2 separate regions of the Homo sapiens genome follow, and region 2 is linked to region 1. The links come from fine-mapping of genetic effects on gene expression. A gene starts in region 1. The other region holds a variant in brackets. All regions are shown on one strand. Distances are between the middles of the regions. Region 1 holds the start of RWDD3-DT (RWDD3 divergent transcript). Region 2 overlaps TLCD4 (TLC domain containing 4).

Region 1 (12,307 bases):
AAACAACAGGGAAATGCAGAAACACTCCCACAAAGGGGTTATTGTTTTGATCCAGATTGTGTTAGAAACACGAGCAAAATAGTGCTTCTTTGTTTCATTGCCAGGAAGTACATCACCGTCATTGTGAAATTCTTGAGATTCAGACCGGCAATCATCTACTCCCATGATTTCAACAGGCTGCAGATGACCACATGTATGATTTTTTTTTTTTTTTTTTTTTTGAGACGGAGTCTCGCTCTGTCGCCCCAGGCTGGAGTGCAGTGGCGCGATCTAGGCACACTGCAAGCTCCGCCTCTCGGGTTCACGCCATTCTCCTGCCTCAGCCTCCCAAGTAGCTGGGACTACAGGCGCCCACCACCACGCCCGGCTAATGTTTTTGTTTTTTTAGTAGAGACGGGGTTTCACCGTGTTAGCCAGGATGGTCTCGATCTCCTGACCTCGTGATCCTCCCGTCTCGGCCTCCCAAAGTGCTGGGATTACAGCAATCACTCGATGGCGTGAGCCATCGCGCCCGGCCATGTATGATCTTTTAAGACCTGTCTCTCCCACTATACTACAACTTCTAAGAGATCCTGTTGCAAACCAGTTTCCCTGGGACCTGGTGCAATACTTGGCACATAGTAAGGTGCTCAATAAGTGCTTGTTGAAGAATAAAGGCAGAGATCTATCTTTCCAGCCACATTTCCTTAAGCTTTCTTCTTCCCCCGCTTACCCTATGATGGGGAACCTCTATCACAATGGCCAAACCAGGCATCCTAGGCCTTCTCCAATGGTTTTTTACTTCTTTGGCAGGACCTTCATCACTTTATCCCAGGAAATGCTGGTGCCCCTCTGGGATTAGATTCCAAGTGCCTGGAGGGCAGTGACTATGTCTCATTCACTCACAAAAACACCTGAAATTTTACAAAATGACTAGCATATAGTAGGTGCTTGTTAAGTCTAAGTTATTTTATCAAGAATTTATGAACTTTATGATGAGTTTATTTGTATCAATAAATATGTATCGAATTCCTAATCTGCCAGGCACTGTTTAAGGTATGGAAGATACAGAGGTGAACAAGCATGATAAGGCCCCTGGAAGCTTACTGGAACTTTAAATTCTAGTAGAGACAAACTAGATCCCTATCTGTCACCATATACAAAAATCAATTCAAAATAGATTAAAGACTTAAATTTAAGACCAGAAACTATGAAACTACTAGAAGCAAACATAGGGGAAATGGATCAGGACATTGGTCTAGGCAAAGATTTTTTGGGTAAGACCTCAAAAGCAGAGGCAACATAAACAATAGACAAATGGGATTACATCAAACTAAAAAGCCTCTGCACAGCAAAGGAAGCAATCAGCAGAGTGAAGAGGCAACCTACAGAATGGGAAAAAAAATATTTGCAAGCTATCCATCTGACCCAAACTCATCTTAATGAGTACAGGGCCTGTCAGATTAAAACCAACATTTTCAAGCTCCCTTTTAACTGGCAGCAGTCATGGGGACTGAGTCCTAGTCAATGAAATTGGACTGAATCCCATTCTTCTGACTCGTGATCGGAGCTCCAAAAGCCACCCTGAACCACAGCATGACCATGGGAATCAAATCTGTGCAGAGCAGAGCCACAAAATAGATGGAACTTATATCCTGACACCGGGGAGCACCAAAGCTCTGCCTACCTCCACACTTGAACGTTTAAGAGAAAACCAATTGTATCTTGTTAAAGCCACTGCACTGTTAGGCTCTGTGCTTTTTTTCACCTGAACTAATCGTAAATCATACATCTGTTAAACACATCACTTTAGAACCTGTCATCTTCTGTCTCTTAATATCATCCACCAACTCTATTCACTCCATTTGGCCCCGGTTTTCCTTTTTCTTCCCTATTTTCCTGCTTTATTTTTGTCCTTTTTCCCTTAATTGAGCATTAGGCAAAACTCAAATATCCTGATGTATTATCTACTGAACACATTTTAAAAATTAACATTTATTAAAAAGAATATGAAATACACAAATGTAGAGGGAATGAAATACTGAATCTTCATGTACCCATCACTCCACCCCACCAATCATTAACCTATGATCAGCTTCTGCCCCACTCACACTATAGCCTCTTCCTCCCTCCTATATTATTTTGAATCAAATTTCAGACCTCATATTGTTATTGAATCAAGTTTCAGACTTCTTTATTTAAGAAGCAGGCAAGTCAATCTTTTTTACTTTTTCCTTACATAAAGACAAATTCCTAACTCATGACTTCTTTTGCCTCATAAAAATCAATCTTTTCTTTCCCTATTTCTCCTCCTTTTCCCCCTTCCCCTCTTCCTCCTACCTCTTTTTTTTTCTCTTTCTCTTTCCCTTCCTACCTTCTTCCCTCCTTCCACTATAATTTTTAAAAAGGAAATCCAAGTCTAATTTTCCCAGTTTTACCTGTGGTTCCTTGATATACATCTGTCTTTCCATTTTCAATCACTTTTGCTAAAATGGCAGAGTTTACTCATGGATAGTCCCTTTATGAGTTTGGAGAAAAGGATATTTAAGTCACACAATCCTCAGCCCTCTTTTAGATAATAAAAACTGGCTACACTAGTAATACAGTGGGAAAATATAATGAATAAGAAGAATCCATTTATAATAGTCACCAAAATTAAATATTGGATACTATTTTAACTAGAAAAACTCAAAAACCCCAATGATACCAGTGACTTGTTTTTATAACATTGAGAAGGCATTGAGCTTTTATATTGGTGGATTTGGGCCATATGGATGGGTTCCCATAAAGCAAGCTGGAACTGTCTTGATACCATTCATGCATAGAAATCAAGCATGGCAGAGTGCAGCCGATATTTTGGAGGGAGTGCAGATTACTTGGACATGATGGAGGCAGATCTTTCCACACAAGGGTATGATCACAGAGCCAGTGGCAAATTCTCATAGATTTTATTTGCTTTTATCATTATGAAAAATAAATTTACGATCTGTATACTGTAACAAAACAAAACAACTATGACTAGTTAACATCCCAGACTTTGTGTACTTTTGGAGGGCTACTGTGTTCCTGAGCATTTCCAAATTATTTCTCCCCTCGGAAATTGTGGGAGGTATATGCTACTCCTACTCTGTTACTTTAACCTACATCATAATATTGAACTTTACACCGCTAAGGAAATGTGATAATTCTTGTATGCTCAGCTTGGTGAAAGAATTTGTAATTGTTTCATATTGTGTTTACTTGTCTAGACCAAAGGCTGTAGTCACTGGAAACATGGACTTGTTTTCATCTCTAACTCTCCACCTCTCCACACTCAGCCTGCAGAGCCCGGCCAACAATCAGTGAGTGTCTAAGAACATTTTGTGAAATGAGTATGCGAATGCAGAAACTCTTTAGACAGAACCAGTAGCACAGGTTCTTGGAGTTCAGATTTATTTAGGAAGTTGGCATTTAAGCCCTCTTTTGGTTGTTTTGGTGGTTCATGAAAGTACTTTTACCTTTCTCAGTTTTGATTTGATATTTTTTCTTATCACACTCCACTCCAGTATTAGGATCCTCACCTTTTTTTGACATAACACTTAACTCTCCTAATACACTTGAAATTGTGCATTCTCATTTCTATGCTCACGTGAGTTTTGACTTAAGATTTCAAACTCAGAGTTGAGTAAGTCTACATACTACTCATGAGAAAGTGAGTAGAACTGTTTCCCCCCAAAATGAAAAGAACTATCTTCTGGGTTATTGGTTTTAACTGAAGGTGAAAGGTTTTAAACCTTTTCCCCTTATGGTCTTGGGGAAGCAACTATTTAGAAAATTTGCTTGTAAAAATAATACTTGTAAAAATAATAATTGTTCTAGCAAATCATACACCTTTGTGTGTGTAAGGGTGAGAAGGGAGAGAGAGAGATGGAGGTAGACAATGCTCTAACTGTAGACATTCATCCTACATTTAAATATTTTGAATTTTCAGTAGCCTGTGAATACGAGGAAACTTATTACATTAAGGTAGACTTTAGAGATTTGACATGTAGCTGATATTTTCACAGTGCAAGAAATATCAAGCTGACATTATGCAGTCTCTGAGATGATTATTTCCAAATGTCAGAGTGCAGAAACTTATTCATGGGACTTCAGTGCCTTAGGATAGTGTCAATTTAAAAGACATTCACATTGACTTCTTTTTTATTTAAACATGCTAAATGAGGTATGAAAAGCAGATTAAGAAATCAACTGAGAAAGGAAGAGCAAAGAAGAAACCTATTGACAAGAAAATTTTAAATCATAGATTGATGTACTCTTTAATCAATTTTCATGGACCTATTGCTGACAGCAGGCTTTAGCAACTGCCTCCTAATCCTTCCTACAGCTGTAATTTTGCTCTTCATGTTATTTCACTCATCTCACTTATAGTGAATTTGGAAAATTAAAAATAAGTAAAAACTATTTGAATATTTTATAGATTTTTTTTTGCTCTTGAGACGGAGTCTCGCTTGGTTGCCTAGGCTGGAGTGGTGCAAAGGTGCGATCTCGGCTCACTGCAACCTCCGCCTCCCGGGTTCAAGCGATTCTCCTGCCTCAGCCTCCTGAGTAGCTGGGATGATAGGTGCTTGCCACCACGCCCAGCTAAATTTTGTATTTTTAGTAGAGACAGCATTTCACCATGTTGGTCAGGCTGGTCCCGAACTCCTGACCTCAGGTGATCCACCCGCCTCGGCCTCCCAAAGTGCTGGGCTTACAGGCATGAGCCACTGCGCCCAGCCTATTTTATAGATTATTTTCAATAAATAAGTCAAAAACCAAATTGTTTGACTTTTCATAGTAACACTGGATTTCGAATTAAAATAACTTAGTAATATTTTAAATTAAAAACGTATTCTTTTGTTCAATCTCTTTAGCAGTTAATTATGAACCTACTGAACTGCTGGAACGTCTGTTATTTTGGAAATAAAGGAGTTTTTTTTTTCTTCAAGCCAATTGGCCATATCAGAGATAACTGCATTTAAATAAGCCTTCATCTTCCCAATTATGTGCTCCTAATTACTCGGGGTCACTGAAATCCCATGGCATCTTCTGAAAAGCATTTTCCCTGCAGTCCATCTTGTTAGGTTTCCTTTCTGTTCCGGGAAGCCAGTATCTTTTCCTTTATCAGATTCCTTTTTTACCAACAGCGGGAATGGTAATGGTGAATGGATGCAGGGTTTTAAAATCAGCCAACTTTGTTCTGACTTCCGTAGGTCAGTGACTGGAGTCACTGCCTAACAACCTAAATTCCCAGATTTATCTCATGAAATGTGATTTCTCATACAAACAAAAGTTGTGAGAACTCCATGAGCAAGACCAGCTGCTTGTGGGGACTGCCAAATTTTAAACTGTTATTTGAACAGCAAAAAGACCAGGCAAACATCCGAGAGACAGACCTAACTGCAGATAAGTCTTGTAATCTTGTTCACTATAGTCAAAACAGAATGGATTGCTTATTCTGTTACCCTATTGGTATTGCTCACATTTTAAAATTTAGGTGCTGGGCTCAAGAATGATAATTTTATTATTAAGCTTCAAGAGTCACATTGTATTGTATGCATTGAATATCACGAAATCGAAAACACTGAAAAGCTAGCGTTTACATTCTTGGATCATACCCCCAAAGGCCAAGGATTCCCACTGGCCGCTTGCAGCAGGGCTGTCTCCTGTGAAGGCAAGAGACAAACGAGGAGCGTTATGACACTTTGCTCCCAGGACTTTGGCGCACAGTTCCCATGAGTCCAGGTCCGTCCAGTCAACATCCTGAAGCCAGGACTGGCAGGTCCTGACCCTCCCTTTTTGCACCCGTAAGGGGAAGGGCCCGGGAATCTGGACCTTGTCTAGAGTCCCGGCGCCAGTACCAGTTCGGAGGGCATCCTGGAGGTTGTTACTAACCCGAGCCTCTTCCAGGCTTCCCAGGCACCAGGGTTGCTAACAGCTCCACGGGGGCGAATAATTTTGTTTATTTTGTTAACTGTGGTTATCTCCAACACTCAGTTCAGACCTGAGCCGGGCAAAGTCTCACCTTGTCTCCTGGTCACTTCCCTGCTTGTTTGTTTCTTCCTAACTCCCAAGTGTCTTTCGCCCAGTTCATCCCCACCTCAGCAGCCCAAGGCTCGGCGGGGACGGTCGGGGTTCGAAGCCTGCAGCTAAACTTAGAGGGTTCAGGCTTTGCTGGGAGGCCTCCCTGTGCTCAGAAGAGCCGGGGGTAAGCTGGGCGGTCGCCTTGGGTGCAGACAGAGGCGCAGGGCCTCGGCCTCCAAGAAAATTCCCAAACCGAGAGGCTGAGCTTCGCGTCTGTAGTTACTGAGCAGGAGCTTCTGGGCGGAACTTCTAAGGGCCCCGCCCGCCCCGTCTGCCCTGACCCTCGCCCGGACTCGCCTCGCCCACGTCCCGTTTCGCTTCGCCCCAGCTCCGTCTCGCCCCGCCCCCGTCCCGCCCGGTTGCGGAGGCGCGGGGCGCCCCCGGGTGGCCGCGGGCAGTGCTGCTCCTGGCCGGTGGAGGCGGCGGCTGCGGCAGCGGAAGGGGAAGCGCTGAGGCGGTGGGGCCCACAGCCATGGCGGAGCCTGTGCAGGAGGAGCTCTCGGTCCTGGCCGCGATTTTCTGCAGGCCCCACGAGTGGGAGGTGCTGAGCCGCTCAGGTGACTACCCGCGCGCGGGAGGGACAGGGCGCCCTCAGGGGCCACCCGCGTTCGCTTTGCGTCTCCTCCCCACCACGGAGCCTGGGCACCCCGCCTGGGCCCACGTATGGGGACCGGGTTAGTTGAATGATGGAATGACACGCCCGGAGGCCGGAGTGGTGTCGCAGCGGGCGGGAGTGTGAGGCGACCCCAGAAACACTAAGAGAGCGGCGCGGCCCACTGGGGCCTCTGCCGCCGGTCCCGCTCCCGGAGCCGGGGGCCCCTGCGTGCGCACCCCCAGGCCCTCCCCCAGCCTCCCACCCCTCAGATCTCACCCTATAAAGAAGCCTGTGCTGACGCCCCCTCGTTGTTCTGTGTCCTTCCTAAGCACTATGCCCTAGGCCCCCCCGAGAGCACTCCCCGGTTCTAACTCTACACGGGTATTTGTAGGTCTTAAGTTGCAGGAGGGCAGGGTCTGTTTGGTAATGACTCCAGGCACCTGGTAGGTAGTAGGTAAATGTTTGTTGACTGAACTTTTTCATTTATCCAGTGCTCAACCTCAACTTTATCTGCATTCTATTTCCAAGTTGATTGCTTTTCTGATACTTTTTTTTTTTTAGGTGGAGTCTCTCTTGTTGCCCTGGCTGGAGTGCAGTGGATCCATCTGGACTCACTGCAGCCTCCGCCTCCCGAGTAGCTGGGATCACAGGCGCGTGCCACCATGCCTGGCTGAATTTTATTTATTTTATTTTATTTATTTTTTATTTTTTAAGACGGAGTCTTGCTTTGTCGCCTAGGCTGGAGTGCAGTGGCGCGATCTCGGGTCACTGCAACCTCCGCCTCCCGGGTTCACGCCATTCTCCTGCCTCAGCCTCCCGAGTAGCTGGGACTACAGGCGCCCACCACCACGCCCGGCTAATTTTTTGTATTTTTTTTTTTAGTAGAGACAGGGTTTCACCGTGTTAGCCAGGATGGTCTCGATCTCCGGACCTCGTGGTCCGCCCGCCTCGGCCTCCGAAAGTGCTGGGATTACAGGCGTGAGCCACTGCGCCCGGCCTTTTTTTTTTTTTTTTTTTTTTTTTGAGACAGAGTCTTGTTCTGTCCCCCAGGCTGGAGTGCAGTGGCGCGATCTCGGCTCACTGCAAGCTCCACCTCCTGGGTTCACACCATTCTCCTGCCTCAGCCTCCCGAGTAGCTGGCACTACAGGCGCCTGCCACCATGACTGGCTAATTTTTTGTATTTTTAGTAGAGACGGGGTTTCACCATGTTGGCCAGGCTGGTCTCAATCTCCTGACCTCGTGATCCGCGCGTCTCGGCCTCCCAAGGTGCTGGGATTACAGGCGTGAGCCACAGGTGCCTGGCCTTCTGATACTTTTTTTTAAACAAGCTCTTGAGGGCTTTATTAGTCATTTAGCCCACATTTATTGAATCCCTGCTGCCTACAGACTTTGTCAGGGTTTCAGAGACACCGCTACCCATGGCCTCTAGGAGCTTACAGTGTAGAGAGGTTCTTTTGACTATTTTTTGATGATAGGTGAAACTTACTGTCCCTGTATGTGGCTTCTATTGAATAAAAAAAAAAGAAAAAACACTGCCATGTATGAGAAAGTGACTCAGTTTTCACTTAGCTTTCAGATACATTATGTACATGTTTGGGGCATGAGATTTATCGTTCTAATGTTATATTGTAGCTACCATTAAAATTGGCTTTCTGACCATAAATTGGTTAACCTTTAAGAAGGTAGTCTAGGCCTGGCGCGTGGCTCATGCCTGTAATCCCAGCACTTTGGGAGGCCGAGGCGGGCAGATCACCTGAGGTCAGGAGTTCAAGACCAGCCTGGCCAACATGGCGAAACCCCATCTCTACTAAAAATACAAAAATTAGCTGGGCATGGTGGCACACGCCTGTGATCCTTGCTACTCGGGAGGCTGAGGCAGGAGAATCACTTGAACCCGGGAGGCGGAGGTTGCAGTGAGCCAAGATCTCACCATTCATTGCACTGCAGCCTGGGTAACAAGAGTGAAACTCTGTCTCAGAAAAAAAAAAAAAAAGTAGTCTAAAAATGGGCTGGATGTTGTGAGAAAACCATTTAAGATTAAGATCCTTCATGATATCCATTGGGTGTGTTATTCACTGAAGGACAGGGAGTTGACTTCCATTTATTCCTTCTTGCATTCATCCACTCACATCCACTCATTGGGCACTGTTATGTTCCAGGCACTATGCACCTATTAGTGTAATGGAGTTGCTTTCTTTTTAGTGCCCAGCCTGACTTGTATCTTTTGAAACAATTGTTTAAAATCCATATGAAGGGGTTTACTCACTTTTAGTGTTTTCTTGTCATCCCTCTTCTGATTGGATAATTCTTCACCATCTCCCTCTCTGTCTCCACTGTTCTCTTTATTGATAATTACTTCTGCCTGAGGCAGCTATTTGAAGAGATCATCAGTTTTCCTAAATTCCTTTATTATGGCTCAGTTGGGAATATCCTGGAAAAATGAACCTGCAATTTCCCATCACACCTTAAAGAACTGGTAATGGTCTGGGTCATTAGTACACAGCTGAGCATAAAACACTGCTGAAGGGTCAGAGAAAACCCAAAAATGTAAGCATAGAAAGAAAACAGTTTCTTAATCTTGAGAACACTGTGAACCCTTTATCTGCTGTTAAATTGAGCATGACTTTCAAGCCATGCCTCCTAATTAGTTTAATTCCATGTTCTGGCATCAATAAGTAATTGAATTATAAAAGAATTCAGTGTAACAACTTAGGACATTTTGTTGCTGAGAGGTAGAATAATTCAGTGATTGAAATGGGGATGTTTGATGTTCACAAGTGGGAATTAAGGGGGTAAGGTAAAGGCCTTTTTTTTTTTTCCCATGATTTTCGTAACATCTTTTTACAAAGTAAGGACTTCTTTAACAGACCACAGTAAACATGCAGCAGACTGCTGGCTACCACTCACCATCACTGTCAGTTTGGGTTGGAGGATACACACTTGATACCAGAACACTCTAAACACTAGTTCTTTTCTGGCCTCCCCCAAATAAGGTTCTCCCTTTTGCCACTGGAATCAGGAGAATGTTGCAGAGGAATTGCATTCCTGGTAACAAGATAACCCAGCAAGACTCAGACTGCTAACCCAAGGATCAACTATTAAGGCCGTAAGATTGAAGAAGCTAAATAATTGGATTCCATTTAGCTGGACTAATTTTATGCTGAGAATTTCAGGGGATTTTATCTGCCTTTTGATCTCTTTACAATGGTTATAGTAAGCTTCTAGTAAGAGGCATAACCATCTCTTAGGGGTGCAAATTAAGTAAGTCCCTACACTCCCATCTACAAGGGAGGGCTGTGGATAGACCACATTAGGGATATTCTGTTTTTCTGTATGCATTGTAGTCAGTCCAGGTGCCAGATTTGATGGGGTGACCTGCCATGTACGTGATACTTGAAATGCATCTTACTTGATGAGGGGTACTATTGGTCTTACTTCACAGAGAAGATAACTGATACTCAGACTGGTTAAATAACCACCAGGCTCCAGGTGTATGGGCCTTTGCACTGCATCATGCTCCTTAATAGAGAGATGGGGCTGTTGCATCAGGAAAATAGTTCTTGGAAAGCAAGGAAATACTTGTGCAGAAAGAGCGATAATGAGCACCCAGAGAAAAGATATGAGTGTGAGCCAACTTATGTTCAGAACAATCCCAAAGGGGAGTGTTTGTGCATGTATGTGTGGATCTATGAGAGGCGTGAGATTGGTATTGTATCACCATTTTCCTGATGAGGAAATTGAGTGACACAGATTATGTGGCCATAGTCAATGTTCGTTATATGTGGGAGTTGTGCTTCTGGAAAGAATCTTACAGATAAAAAAGTTGTAAGATGGGAGAACCCAATATCATGTAATAGGTTTTCACAGAAGCTGCAGAGTGAATTTTTGTATTTTAGCAACACTAATGTTCAAATTAGTTTGGGCCTTCTTATAAAATGAATCATGACTGTCACACATTGACCCCTCTAAATCTGCTCAGCTCGGTTTTATGCTGATTGTCAGTATTGAGCTGACTTCTATAAAACCGATGAGATTGCTACTTTTAGCTTCATTTATTTTTAGTTTTTTTTTTTTTCTTCTGAAGCTACATTGAAACTTATGTAAAAATCCAACTGAAGCATAAAACAAGCACTGGTGTATGCTTGCCTGGGAGCTGCCTGGGAGCAAGAGGAGACAGTCTTGTCTTACCAAGTATGAGAGGGTGCTGAAGGTTTCTTGGTGGTTTTCTTCAAAGTTGTATCTTGAGGATATATAACAATTGCAAAGAAAAAAAACACAAGTGTAGGGAAGGTCAGATGTATATGGTATGTAAACAATTTCTTAATGGGCTCTTAGTGAATCCTGAAAAACCCATTCTCTTAAATTTTACCTTTTTTTAAAAATGTCTTCTGTTATTTGACTGCATTTATAGAGTTTCTGTTGTGTGTTGTATTTTATTAAGTAGAATGAAACCTTAAAAATAGCATTAGTGTGAATTTGGAGTTCTAAAAGTTTAAGTTTCTCTAGTTTGAATTTCTGTTTGGAATGTGTTTAGGAGCTTACTTTCTGATGTTTGTAAGGAAGCATAAGGTTTGAAACCTGTTTCAGTTTGTGTTTTAGGTATGAAAATGATACACTTACTATAAGACAGAATGATTTGGTTAGAAACAACAAGTAGTCAATTTGTATCAACTTGAACAAGAGGGCAAGACCCTTTTGGTAGGGTCTTTAGAATACATGAAAACACCCTTGGACTTATGGAGATTTTAGTTTTCTGGGGCAAGCCTTAAGTTTTCTAGGGCATAGATGTTTGTTGAGAATGATCAGTTTGTGAATTAAGCTTATTAACTAAGGTTCTGGGGGGCTAAGGAGGGGCAGAGATTAGTATTAGATTTAGAGCATAATTATTTTTCTGCTAATCACTGTTTCTAAGCTGTTAATAACCTTAAAGCAGATAGGGGCAACTTTGTTTTCTTTTTTATTATGGCAAAAAAAGAAAACAAAAAATCAGACTTACAGTGCATGTGTCATATGAAAAATTCTGAGGCAGAAAGGAGCCAGTTTAATTGCTTGTACAATGTCAAGCAGATGAGATATGGAAGAGTACAATACATACTTCTAGAGTTTTTGGGAGAAAATGAGTTTTTAAAAGTATGTAATTTTATTGCCACATTAAATACCAGAAGAATGGAGTATGTTATTGGGCTTTTCAGTTTCTTGTAGAGATGACAGTATCATTTTGTATAATCTTATTTTGCAGCTACAGTGTATGTGTGGGTGGGCAGGGGGATTTACCAAGACCAATTAGGAAGAATGCTAATCCTTTCCAATTCTTAAAAGAACTAAGGCAGTTTTCTTCCGAACATATAACTAGTATGACGGTCACAGTTTTCTAAGGTGAAAGTCAGGAGTTTCACCCATTGCTATTCTGTTTGCTGACTAGGACCAGAAAATAACACAGAGAAAAATGAAAATTGGTAAGGACTGACATGGCTGGCTCAGTAGCTTTTCAAGACTTTCCCCCTGGACTACCAACATGTTTCTTTCCTGTGGTTCCCTGCACCAGAGAGGACCCGGTAGGTGTTTATATGGCACAGGTTGGAGAACACTGTGGGTCTCAGGGTTTTGATCAGAAAAGGATTCTTCAA
Region 2 (12,307 bases), 46 kb before region 1:
TGAGTTATGTAGGTCTTCTAAATGTTGAACATTTATTAGATGACATTTAAAATATCACCGCAGATCTCATTAGAAAAGTCTTTAAGTATTGAGAGGCTGTCAAGCTCACAGTTGCAGATAACAAATTTTCCAATATTCTGATTTTCATTTGAAAGTTCAGATTTTGTTGTTGGTATCAAAACTGTCAGTTGCTTTTCTTTATGTGACAAGCCCACTTTTTTTTTTTATTTTTGAGAGAGTGCCTGCCAGATGGCTCAAGCAATCATAGTTTATTGTTTTTTGTTTTTTTTTTCAAGTAAAAATGGCAGTCTGTGGAAGAACCTGGTAGTTTAGCTTACAATTTAAACCATCAGTTGAGGGTTTTTCCTCAAGAAAACCATTTTACTTTGTAGCAGAAATGCCTTATGTGTACTTCCCATTTTATCATACAGAATATTAAAAAGACACATACTCAGAAGTCATCTAATAAAAATAATAAATAATTCTTACTGCTTCATTAAGGGCATTTCTAACTGAAACTTTTCTTTTTTCTGGTTTTGTTTTTAACTGCAAGCAAGCATGTGGTGGGAAAGGATACAGTGGCTACTAATACCATTTCTTTATTTGTGCTAAGATGCCAACAGTTTTATTTACTAGCACTTTACACTATCAGTATAGAAGTCAGCACAATGAAAAAGGCAAATAATGTTTTAATACTATTATTAAAATAATTATATCTTGAAGACCTCCCAAAAAGGACTCAGGGGTCCATAAACCACATTTTAAGACCTATCATTGATTGATACTTGTCACGTAAGGCTTCACAGAGAACGTGGCATACACTCTTAAAATGTTTTAGGACTTTTTTTTTTAAGAAGTGGATGGAGAGGGAAGGGCCTTCATTCAAGAAGAAAAGAATCAACATAGGATTTTGAAAAGTGAAATAAACATGCTATGGGAAAGAGAAAGTATAGGATCAAAGAGTATGTCTTAGGGGTAGGGTGGATAGATGTAGAGGATGTTGAGTGTCTGGGAGAGCTGATTGAACTTGACCCAGTAGACAGTGAGATTATAGTGGAGAAAGACATTCTGGAAAGAGCACTGAGTGGTTATAACTTTTGATATTTGTAGGATAGATTGTAACACTGGAGACAAAAGTTTGGGTTAGGTTACCCAGTTCTTAGTTGTGTGAATGGACAGTGTAATTTTATTAGTTCCGAAAGTAAATAAGAGTCCATATTAAGCTGTGGGACTAGAGAGATGACAAAATAGAGATTTTGAAGAAATGAAATGAAATTGGCAATGAACGGATAAAAAATTAGAGAATACGGACAAGTTTAAGACAAATCCTATATTGGACCCAGAGAAATGTGCCCATCAAAAGTGACAGAGAATTAGGAAGACTGAGAGGGAAGGTGACGAATTTAGTGCGGAGATATTGGATAAGAGGACAAACAGAGCATCTGAGTGGAAATTTAGTGAGAGCTCGAGAGAGGAATGTTGGGATGATCAGAATAAGGTGATATTTTAACCTGTGAGAAAAGATATATTTAGAAGATTAGAGTTAAATGTTTAAGACTGGAAAATCAGCCAGGTGTGGTGGCTCACGCCTGTAATCCCAGCATTTTGGGAGGCCGAGGCGAGCAGATCACAAGGTCAGGAGGAGATCGAGACCATTCTGGCCAACATGGTGAAACCCCGTCTCTACTAAAAGTACAAAAAAGAATTAGCTGGGTGTGGTGGCGCGTAGTCCCGGCTACTCAGGAGGCTGAGGCAGGAGAATCGCTTGAATCTGGGAGGCGGAGATTGCAGTGAGCCGAGATCGCACCACTGCACTCCAGCCTGGCGACAGAGCAAGACTGTCTCAAAAAACAACAACATAAAAAACAAAAACAAAAAAAACAAAAAAACAAGATTGGAGAATCAGAGAAAGAAGAGTAGATATAATGAAGGAATAATTTAGGAGTAGTAGGGGAACCAAAATAATATGAAGCTGGAGGGAAACTTGTCTAAAATTCAGTTCTTAAATTCCTAACCTTCCAGGGTTAATGTTTATTAAATACAAATGTTTACATGCCTGAAGAAATTACATTTGCAACTAAGATGTAAGTAGAGTCAGCTTACAGCCCAGTCCCTTCACAGAGTTCCAGAAACAGTACAGCATCCAAATCCTTATTGGAGTTTTTCCAAGGATGTCAACAAAGATCCAGTTTGTTACTCACAACAGCACTTCTTAAAATTCTCTTCATTCCTCTTGGACTCACAATATCTTGACCCCACAGCTTTCCTAAGGCTCTCTCAAACTTCTGACTCTCAACTCCTCTAAAACTCAACAAACCAGTGCCATCAAGGATCAATTATTTGTCCCTGTCCTCTTTTCTCACTTTTTTTTTTTCTGTGCCTGCAAATAGCCCTCCATCCTCTTTCCAAATGTAAATGTGAATTAGAGCAAATAATTCCTAGTTTTTACACTTTTTCTAGTTTTTACACAATTTTTAGTGAGTACGATACCTCTACACAATTAACTCCCAGTAAACTTAATGGGAAGGTTCAAGTTCCTTTAGAAGGGTAGGAGGAGGAATAATTGCTAAATGACCAAAGTTAGGATTTTCTCTCTGGAGTGAAGGGAGGATTGTATTAATAAATACATACAATTTGCTGTCTTTTATGCCTGTCTTAGTAATAACAGTAAATGGTGGGTAAAAGAAAGTGTTGCTGTTCTTCTTTCCTTCCTTCCCACATGCATGTTTTCCTCCCTTCCCCTCTTTCCTCTCAGATTCAGTACATACCTTCACAAACTGTTAGTCTTTATTTGCTAGAATGAAAGAATGTTCTAATTAGGTAAGAAGAGGTGGATTCCAACAAAATAAGTGATCTTTCTGCCATGGAAGAGGGAGGTAAGGAGGACAGTTATGTAAATATTATTTCACCTTGAGTTAATATTTGGGTTCTTTCCTTTGAAAGAAACTGGTTTAAAGACCAGGCACTGGTTAGATGGAAAAATTGGCAGAAGCTAACACTATGGTTATGAGGAAGCTATGGGTGACCAATTTCTTTTTTTTTTTCTTTTTTTTTAAATTATACTTTAAGTTTTAGGGTACATGTGCACATATGTAACTGACTAATTTCTTTTGTAGAGTTGCAGTCATATCGTCTTGGGTTTGGGAGTGTAGTAAGAATGTCTGTGAATATGTCTGACTCTCCTTTCAAAAAACTGGCAAAGAAGAGAAGCAGTGGAGGGGAGGTTTTTGGATTAGCAGGAATTGAGCACGTTGGTAAAAGAAGAATCAATTTATAGAAGGGGAACTTGGTAGAACAAGGGAAGGCAGGGTAGTTTATTGAATAAATCCTAGAAGATGAGGACTCTCCTCTGAGTTGAAAGGTAAAGGTGCCTGAGAAGAAGTTTTGAGATCTTGGGGTCAGAGTGGAAGGAATTCATGGTTGATGGACTCTAATGCAGTTGACTCCCGAACAACATGGGTTTGAACTGTATGAGTCCACTGACACATCTATTTTTTTCAATAAAATTTGCACTAAGTGTGCCTGCCTTTCCTTCCAACTTCGTCACCTCTTCCACCTCTGCCACCTTTGCGACAGCAAGTCCAACTCCTTCTCTTACTCAAGGCTAGTTAACGTGAAGACGACGAGAATGAAGACCTTTACAAAGATCCACTTTCACTTAATAGTACATATATTTTCTTTTCTTTATGATTTTCTTTTCTCTAGAAAATAACGTTTTTCTCTAGCTTTATTATAAGAATATAGTATATAATGCAAATAACATAAAATAATGTTAATTGACTTTATGTTATTGGTAAGGCTTCTGGTCAACAATCAGGTGTTTGGGCAAGTCAGAAGTCAAGCAATTTTCAACTGTGTGGGGAGTCAGCACCCCTAACCCTGGTGTTGCTCAAGAATTAACTGTATATCAGTAAGAAACCAGATGCTCTGATGGGATTGAGAGACAAAAGTGAATGAGGAAGGGAATTGACTTGAATGGCAGGACAGGTTTGGAAGCAATTATATGGGAACTATGGAGTGAAATGAAAGGACTGTCGAGCCAGTTTGAGAATTCTGCTGAAGTTCAAATCTTTTAAAATTATATTTGTGCCATTTATCTTAATAAAGATTGGTGGGTAATGATATTTATTGAATTTACAGTATGGGGGAGTTGTTACTCTGTGTCATGGCAGCTTCATAGTACAAAGGAGGTACTATCATTTATCCCCATTTATAGAGATAGAACAAACATAGAGGTGAATAGCAGAGAGAGCTAAGACCACACAGTTGCTCCATGGCAGAACCAGGCTTTCAACCCAGGCGGCCTGACTGCAGAGCACCCTAGCTACTCTTCACGTCATTCTGTATTGCCTAAGGAAAGCTGGCTTGATGAAACACTGGAGATCAGCAGAGTGGGTGAGATAGATGAAGTGGCAAGAGAACGGAGGGTGCTGATGTGTGTTCTGAAGTTAACTTGGAGTTTGGATTAGGTAGGAAAGGAAGTGAAAGCGTGGAGGCTGATAGAGAGAGATTTGAGGATTTGAAGGTCAAAGAAGTAGTTTAGGTGAGATTGGGTAAAGAGAAATATGGAAGGCTTATGATTAGAGAGGAATGGGTTCACTGAGGTATAATATTTCTTGAGTAATTCCAAGGCTGCCATGTAGTCAAAGAAATGAATGGCTGAAGGAGAAGGGAAGTCTTTGGAGAAGAGAAGGCTTGAGGATCAGAGACCTGGATTAGAATGTGGATGTCATTGCTTTAGTGATGTTTTTCCTATTTGCAGTATTATTTCATTAATTTAGCCATTGCTATCTAAATAGTCTTTCTTAATTGTCTTAGATAATTTAGCCCTTTTATCCTACATAAACTTATAAAATGTAATACATCTCTCATCCTATATAAATTATTTGATATTTTAATCACTCAATAAAATATTTTCAAGCTTTTTAACTATTAATTTTTAGTTTCTTATGTTGAACAATTTTAGCTTAATCATGACTAATTCAGTTAAATTGAATATTAAGATACACAGATATGTTTTACTGCCTTTGCAATTTGATCTCTAAAATGATGTAAAATTAGGCAAGGCAGTTTTTTTAAGGAAGAAAAAGTGGAATAGAGCGAATGTTCACTGACTTTTTAAAAACCTTTTTATCTTTAGAATAGTTTTACATTTACAGAAAAATCAGAAGGCTGATACAGAGGGTCCCTGTGTACCCCACACCCAGCTTCCCCTATTGTTAGCGTCATAGATCAGTGGGTGCAGTTGTTAACAATTAGCGAGCCAGTGTTAATATCTTATTGTTAACTAAAGTCCATACTTTGTGTGGATTTCTTTCGTTTTTGCCCAGTGCCCCTTTTCTGTCTCAGGATCCCTTCCAGAATGCCACACTACATTTAGTTTCATGTCTGCTTAGGCTACTGTTGGCTGTGATCGTTTCTCAGATGTCCTGTCTCTGGTGACCTTGACGGTTTTGAGGAGTACTGATCAGGTGTTTTGTAGACTGTCCCTCAATTTGGGTTTGTCTGATGTTTTTCTCATGATTACACTGGGGATATGGGGTTTGGGGAGGAAGACCACCGAGGGACAGTATCATTCTCATCACACATATTAGGACTGCATGCTGTGAACATGACTTAATCATTGTTGATGTTAAGCTTGTTCACCTGAGGTACTGTTTGTCCGGTTTCTCCATTTTAAAGTTATTCCTTACACCTGCCCTCCCCCTGCCCCTTCCATACTGTACACTTTGGAAGGAAGTCACTGTGTGTATTAGTTTGTTGGGGACTGCCATAAAAAATGCCACAGTCTGGGTGGCTTAAATAACAGAAATGTGTTTTTGCACAGTGCTGGAAGCCGGATGTCCAAGACCAAGGTGCCTGCAGGGTTGGTTCTTGGTGAGGCGCCTCTCCTCTTCTTGCAGGAGGCAACTTCTCTCTGTGTCCTCACATGGCCTCTTCTCCGTGTGTGCATGGAGGAAGAGGGAGAACTTTGGTCTCTCCTTTCTTTTAAGGGCACTGGTCCTATTGGATTGGAGCCTGACCCTTGTTACTTTATTTAACCTTAATTGCCTTCTTAAAGGACCTATCTTGAAATACAGTCACTTTGGGGCTTTAGGGCTTCAACATAAGAATTTAGCCGGGCGCGGTAGCTCACGCCTGTAATCCCAGCACTTTGGGAGGCCGAGGCGGGTGGATCACAAGGTCAGGAGATCAAGACCATCCTGGCTAACACGGTGAAACCCCGTCTCTACTACAAAATACAAAAAATTAGCCGGGCATGGTGGCGGGCGCCTGTAGTCCCAGCTACTCGGGAGGCTGAGGCAGGAGAATGGCGTGATCCCGGGAGGCGGAGCTTGCAGTGAGCCAAGATCGCGCCACTGTACTCCAGCCTGGGCGACAGAGCGAGACTCCGTCTCAGAAAAAAAAAAAAAAAAAAAAGAATTTAGTGGGAAACAGTTCAATACATTACACTATACACAGCCCACACTTGAGGACTAGGGGTTTATGCTTTACCTTGTTGAAGGTGTGATTTCTACATAAATTATTTGCAGTTATTCGGAACAGATTTGTTTCTTCTCCCCTATTCATTCATTCATTCATTTATATCAGTATTGATTTCTGGATATTTATTTTATACTTTAGGTTATAATCCAATACAACATTATTTATTTTGTTGCTCACATTGTGAGTTTTGGACCTGGAGAGCTCATTTGGTTGGTTTCTGTGTTCCTTTGACATAAAGAAACGTCATTTTGTTTTTTGAGCACTTTCTTGCTCTCTGGCCCTAAATGATACTCTAACAGGTTCATATTGTATATTGTGTATTCTCTGTTCCCAGCCCTCAAATCAGGTATTTCTCAAGGAACCCTAGTTTCTTTCATTGGAGAGTGGTATTAGAAGCCAACA[C/T]GTGGATGCCATGTATGCTCATTGTTACTGAGGCATCATTGTTTCTATGGGCTCCTAGCTGACAGAACCTGGAAATATGCTGACCTGTGTGTATACACCTATCTATAATTATTTCTGTATGTATGCATTTATAGCTATATCAAGCTAAAATAGTTCACTGTTTCCAAATCTAATCCAGTATCTCATGGAAAAAATCTAGCCGCCTCTTGCTTGTCTGAAACCTTTCTATCCAACAATGAGAAACCTGGTTCCCACTATTTTTCATCAAACAAATCCATTTATTTGTTCAGTCCTGATATACATGTATAATGGTTTCAGAATTGTTAATTGTTTTTGCGTGAACTAGAGTACATTGCCTGTATACAGTTTCTTTTGCCTTTGTCTTATAGTCTCCATCTTTGAAGTCACTTAGGTCAGCACCTCTTTCTACCTTACTCCTTTCAGGGATGTTATATCATGCATTTGTAACAGTTAAGATTCTTTTGTCACTGTTTGCATTGCATCCTGGTATCCCCCAACCTCCTAATTGATTGTTTAAAATTTTGCATACATCAGGTTCACTTTTTGTGCACTTCTGTGGGTTTTGATAAGTGCATAATGTCATGTATCCACCACTATAGTATTATGCAGAACAGTTTCACCACCCTAAAATATCCCTTGTTTTACCTACTCAATCCCCTTCCACTCTTTCCGAAACTCTGGTAACCACTATTCTGTTTTCTGTCTTGATACTTTTGCTTTTTCTAGAATGTCTATAAATGGAATCATACAGTGTACAGGATTTTCAGACTGATTTCATTTACTTAGCACTTTAGATTCATTCTTGCTGTTACATTGATAGTTTATTTTTATTGCTAAGTAGTATTCCAATGTATGGATGTACTACAATGTTTGTCCATCTTGATGGCTTGTAGTTGTTGGCAGTTATGAATAAAGCTGGTGTAAACACGTATGCAGCTTTTGTGTGGACATACATTTTTTAATCAGTTGGAAAAATACCTAGGAATGTGATTGCTGGTTTGTGTGCTATGAATATGTTTAGTTTTATGCCTGCTAAACTGTCTTCTAAAGTGGTTGTACCATTTTGCATTCCTAGCAGCAATGAATGTGTGTTCCTCTTGTTCCACACCCTTGCCAGCAATTGTTATTGTCCATTTTTTGGGATTTTAGCTATTTTAATAGGTGTGCATAGTATCTTGTTGCTAAAATTTGCACTTTCTTTTTTTTTTTTTTCTTTTTTTTTGAGACAGAGTCTCACTCTTGTTGCCTAGGCTGGAGTGCAATAGCACGATTTCGGCTCACTGCAACCTCTGCCTCCCAGGTTCAAGAGATTCTCCTGCCTCAGCCTCCCAAGTAGCTGGGATTACAAGAATGCGCCACCACACCCAGATAATTTTGTATTTTTAGTAGAGATGGGGTTTCGCCATTTTGGCCACATTGGTTTCTTTTCTTTTCTTTTCTTTTCTTTTTTGAGATGGAATCTTGCTCTGTCGCCCAGGCTGGAGTGTGGTGGTGTGATCTCGGCTCATTGCAACCTCTGCCTCCTGGGTTCAAGCAATTCTCTGCCTCAGCCTCTGAGTAGCTGGGATTACAGGTGCCCGCCGCCATGCCTGGCTAATTTTTGTATTTTTAGTAGAGACGGGGTTTCACTATCTTGGCCAGGCTGGTCTTGAACTCCTGACCTGATGATCCACGCTCCTCAGCCTCCCAAAGTGCTGGGATTACAGGGGTGAGCCACTGCGCCTGGCTGGCCAGGCTGGTTTCAAACCCCTGACCTCAGGTGATCCACCTGCCTCAGCCTCCCAAAGTGCTGGGATTACAGGCGTGAGCCACTGCAATTTGCACTTCCTAATGACAATAGTGAACATCTTTTTATATGCTTAGTTTTCATCTATATATATTTTCTGATGAGGTTTTTGTTATGCTCTTTTACCAGTGTTTTAATTGGGTTGTTTTCTTATTGTTGACTTTTAAGAATTCTTTGTGTACTTTGTATACATGTACTTTACCATACATGTATATTTTAAATATTTTTTCCTAGTGTGTGGTTGTCTTTTCTTTAACAGTGTCTTTCGCAGAGCAAGTTTTAATTTTAACGAAGTCCAACTTAACTAACTTTTTCTTCCATGGATGACACTTTTGGTGTTGTATCTAAAATAGCACCACCAGATGCAAGATCATACAGGTTTTTTTCCTTTTTTCTTATGGAAGTTTTATAGTTTTGCATTTTACATTTAGGTCTATGATCCATTTTGAGTTAATTTTTGTGTAAGGTGTGAGATCTCTGCTTAACTTCATTTTTCTCGATGTTGATATACAATTTTGCACACCTTGTTGAAAAGACTTTTTTTCTCCACTGAATTACCTTTATGCTTTTGTCACAAATCAGTTGAGTATATTTGTGTGGGTCTATTTCTGAGCTCTCTTTTCTCTTCCATTGGTTTATTGATCTTTCACTAACACCATGCTGACTTGATTACTGTCGCTTTATAGTTAAGTCTTGGAAATGGGTAGTGTGAGTCCTCCAACTTTGTTCTTTTTCAGCATTGCGTATGCTATTCTAGGCCCTTTGCTCCTCCTTCACTGAATTTTAAAATTTAAAAACTAAAATAAAAATGGTTAATCCTCAGAGATGCACTATAAATGTGATGTTTCTTTAATTCATTTTTCAGGTGGTTCTTTGAAGCTCTGAAGTATCCCAAGTTTTCTAAAGCTATCGTTATCAATGGAATACTCATGACAGTAGTATTCTTCATCGTGCGGATTGCCTCAATGCTTCCTCATTATGGCTTCATGTATTCCGTGTATGGAACAGAACCCTACATAAGGCTTGGAGTTTTAATCCAGTTATCCTGGGTCATTAGTTGTGTTGTTTTGGATGTGATGAATGTCATGTGGATGATCAAAATTTCAAAAGGTTGCATCAAAGTCATCTCTCACATCAGACAAGAGAAAGCCAAAAATAGTCTTCAGAATGGAAAACTTGATTAAAAGAGTGCTACCGATAAGCAAACTTCATTACTACCCAGCATATCTGCTGATAGGATGAATTCTTGGCATGTTCTTGTGTACCTTTCTTAATTATAATTGTTATTCAGGATTTCAGTGTCATTTTTTTTAAACCTTAGAAAAGAGAAGGCCGGGCACGGTGGCTCATGCCTGTAATCCCAGCACTTTGGGAGGCCAAGGTGGGTCGATCACTGAGGTCAGGAGTTCGAGACTAGCTTGGCCAACATGGTGAAACCTCATCTCTACTAAAAATACAAAAAAAAGTAGCTGGGCGTGGTGGTTGGCGCCTGTAATCCCAGCTACTCGGGAGGCTGAGGCAGGAGAATCGCTTGAACCCGAGAGACGGAGGTTGCAGTGAGCTGATATTGTGCCACTGCACTCCAGCCTGGGCGACAGAGCAAGACTCTGTCTCAAAAAAAAAAAAAAGAGAGAAACTAAAATTAAAATTTAGTTTTCATCCCAAGATGTCTTTTCTGCCTTTCTTTTGCCTTATTTACAAGCATGGATAAAAATCTTAAAGGTTTAAATAAAAATGATCAATATAATGGTGAATCTTTTGAGAAATCTCTTAACTGCATTGGTATTTTTTCTCTGTGAAAGATGACTATGATAATCTGGTACAAATGGTTTTATGTCACCAATTTTGCTGCAAGAATGGGAACTGCTTTTAAATCTGTAAATAGCTCTTAACATTTGTTGTATGCACTCTTTTCTTACTATGGCTGTCAACACTTGTGTAGGGTTTAATTTCTAAATTGTTGGCATGTTCTTTTTCTCAGGCTATTCAGAAGTAACAACATTTTTCATTTCAGACATGCAATCACCTATTAATGATGAAATATTTTACCACTTTGGGAATATTTAATTAGTTTAGTCATGGAGAATACTTCCCACATTTTAAGATTTTTTCAAATATCACTGTCATTTCTATTTTAGCATTTTATCAAATTATTGCTTTTTTATTTTATAATAAGGCTTAAGACAGATTATAGACCTCCTTAAGAGATGAGTTTCTTCTTCTAAAAATGCATGTTGATAGAGGACTATTTAGGCTAATCGGAGGAATCATTAAGAAAGAAAGTTTTAACACTGTTTATCCCTATCTGCTTTCCTTGCACTTTTTCTGTGAAAAATATTTTCTGTTTGCAAAATCTTCCCTGAGTTCTGAACCCAGCACCATCAGTACCAAAGTCTTATGCAATATGTATTTATTATGCTCCTGAAATAGGCCTCTTCTTGATGAGACCCAAACTATTACAAAAATATCAGTATTCATATTTTACTCACAATTCATACCCGTGCTTACTTAGTTGGCATTTTAGTGCTTTGAATTTCTATCTTAAAGCACAGAAAAAAAAAGGTAATTTAATCCAAGTATTCTATCATCAAAATTATTGTCTGATTATATGAAGATAAATGACTGGCGACTCTGGTTGTGTGTGTATGTGTTTTGCTTTTACTTTAATTCTTGCAATCCAAATATAGAATTATATATTTATCTATTATTGCCTTTATTCTTTAAGCACTTGAGTTTAATGATTATTCTTACCTGAGAAAGGAAGAAATTTAATTCTACCAGTGATGAATACTTGAAATTAATTGAACTCATACCAAAAGATGTAATCCAGTTTCTCAGTTTGAAGGAGAACGTTTGACTCACTTTCATTGTTCATGCTAGCTGAATATAATCAAGACTTTTGATTTGATTTGCTTTTATTATTCAATGCAGATAGAGCCTGATAAGTTTTAGAACATTTAAAGAAGATTGAAATCTCAGTCAGTAACTAAATGATAAAATGAGATTGATTGGCTTATACTAGGTACATTTATTTTTGAAAGAATTAATGTAAAATAATAGTTATTTTTAAAGCAGCTAATATTACACTGATAATTTGTTGCTAAATTTAGTGCTGTCCACATCATAGGTGCTTAAATATGTACTGGTTAACTAGAGGGGGGTAGGAAAGCAAGCGGTTTTATCTTGTTCTTACCTTTTTGCAGGAAAAGTGGCTTTAAAAAAATTTATATAATAAAACTATTTTGGAAATTCATTCTTTTAGAAAGAGACCTTGAGATAAATATTTTTTGACTCTGGATATTTCTATAGTTCTGAACACAGATTTTAAACCCACTATCAAAATGAAAACAATATAAAGCTATATTAGTGAGTCTCCATGTAGCAGTTTGTTTTTATAGTTACTGTTTCATGCTTAAAACTTCATTCTTACTTTCATTAATGTTACCCTTCACTGGTATAGCCACTCACTAAATAAGTATATTTAAAACATCAAAATTTTGAACTAAAGTTTGTGATTCTCTTATTCAGCAATCCTTATCTTATGCTGGCTGCATGAGTTAATTCAACATCCAGATTAAATATCCTGAAGTAGGTTCTATATATTTCCTCATA

Evidence for each region.
Region 2: its variant is fine-mapped to the expression of RWDD3-DT in whole blood (TOPMed, PIP above 0.99).

What each region holds. Positions count from the first base shown.
Region 1 is chr1:95,227,675-95,239,981 of GRCh38, forward strand. It overlaps RWDD3-DT (RWDD3 divergent transcript), which reads right to left and starts at 6,308. Exons shown (of 4, transcript NR_125949.1): 1 at 6,026-6,308. TLCD4-RWDD3 (TLCD4-RWDD3 readthrough) reads left to right here. Exons shown (of 8, transcript NM_001199691.1): 7 at 3,228-3,320. It overlaps RWDD3 (RWD domain containing 3), which reads left to right and starts at 6,536. Exons shown (of 4, transcript NM_015485.5): 1 at 6,536-6,641. The coding sequence starts at 6,557. RefSeq lists silencers at 6,277-6,606, 6,817-6,996.
Region 2 is chr1:95,181,990-95,194,296 of GRCh38, forward strand. It overlaps TLCD4 (TLC domain containing 4), which reads left to right. Exons shown (of 7, transcript NM_152487.3): 7 at 9,561-12,307. The coding sequence ends at 9,879. The region is part of intron 6 of TLCD4-RWDD3 (TLCD4-RWDD3 readthrough); the gene reads left to right. All of the region lies in intron 3 of RWDD3-DT (RWDD3 divergent transcript), which reads right to left. Among named protein-coding and RNA genes, the nearest start is that of RWDD3-DT, 46 kb to the right of the region's middle. The variant C/T (reference allele first, on the strand shown) is at 6,889.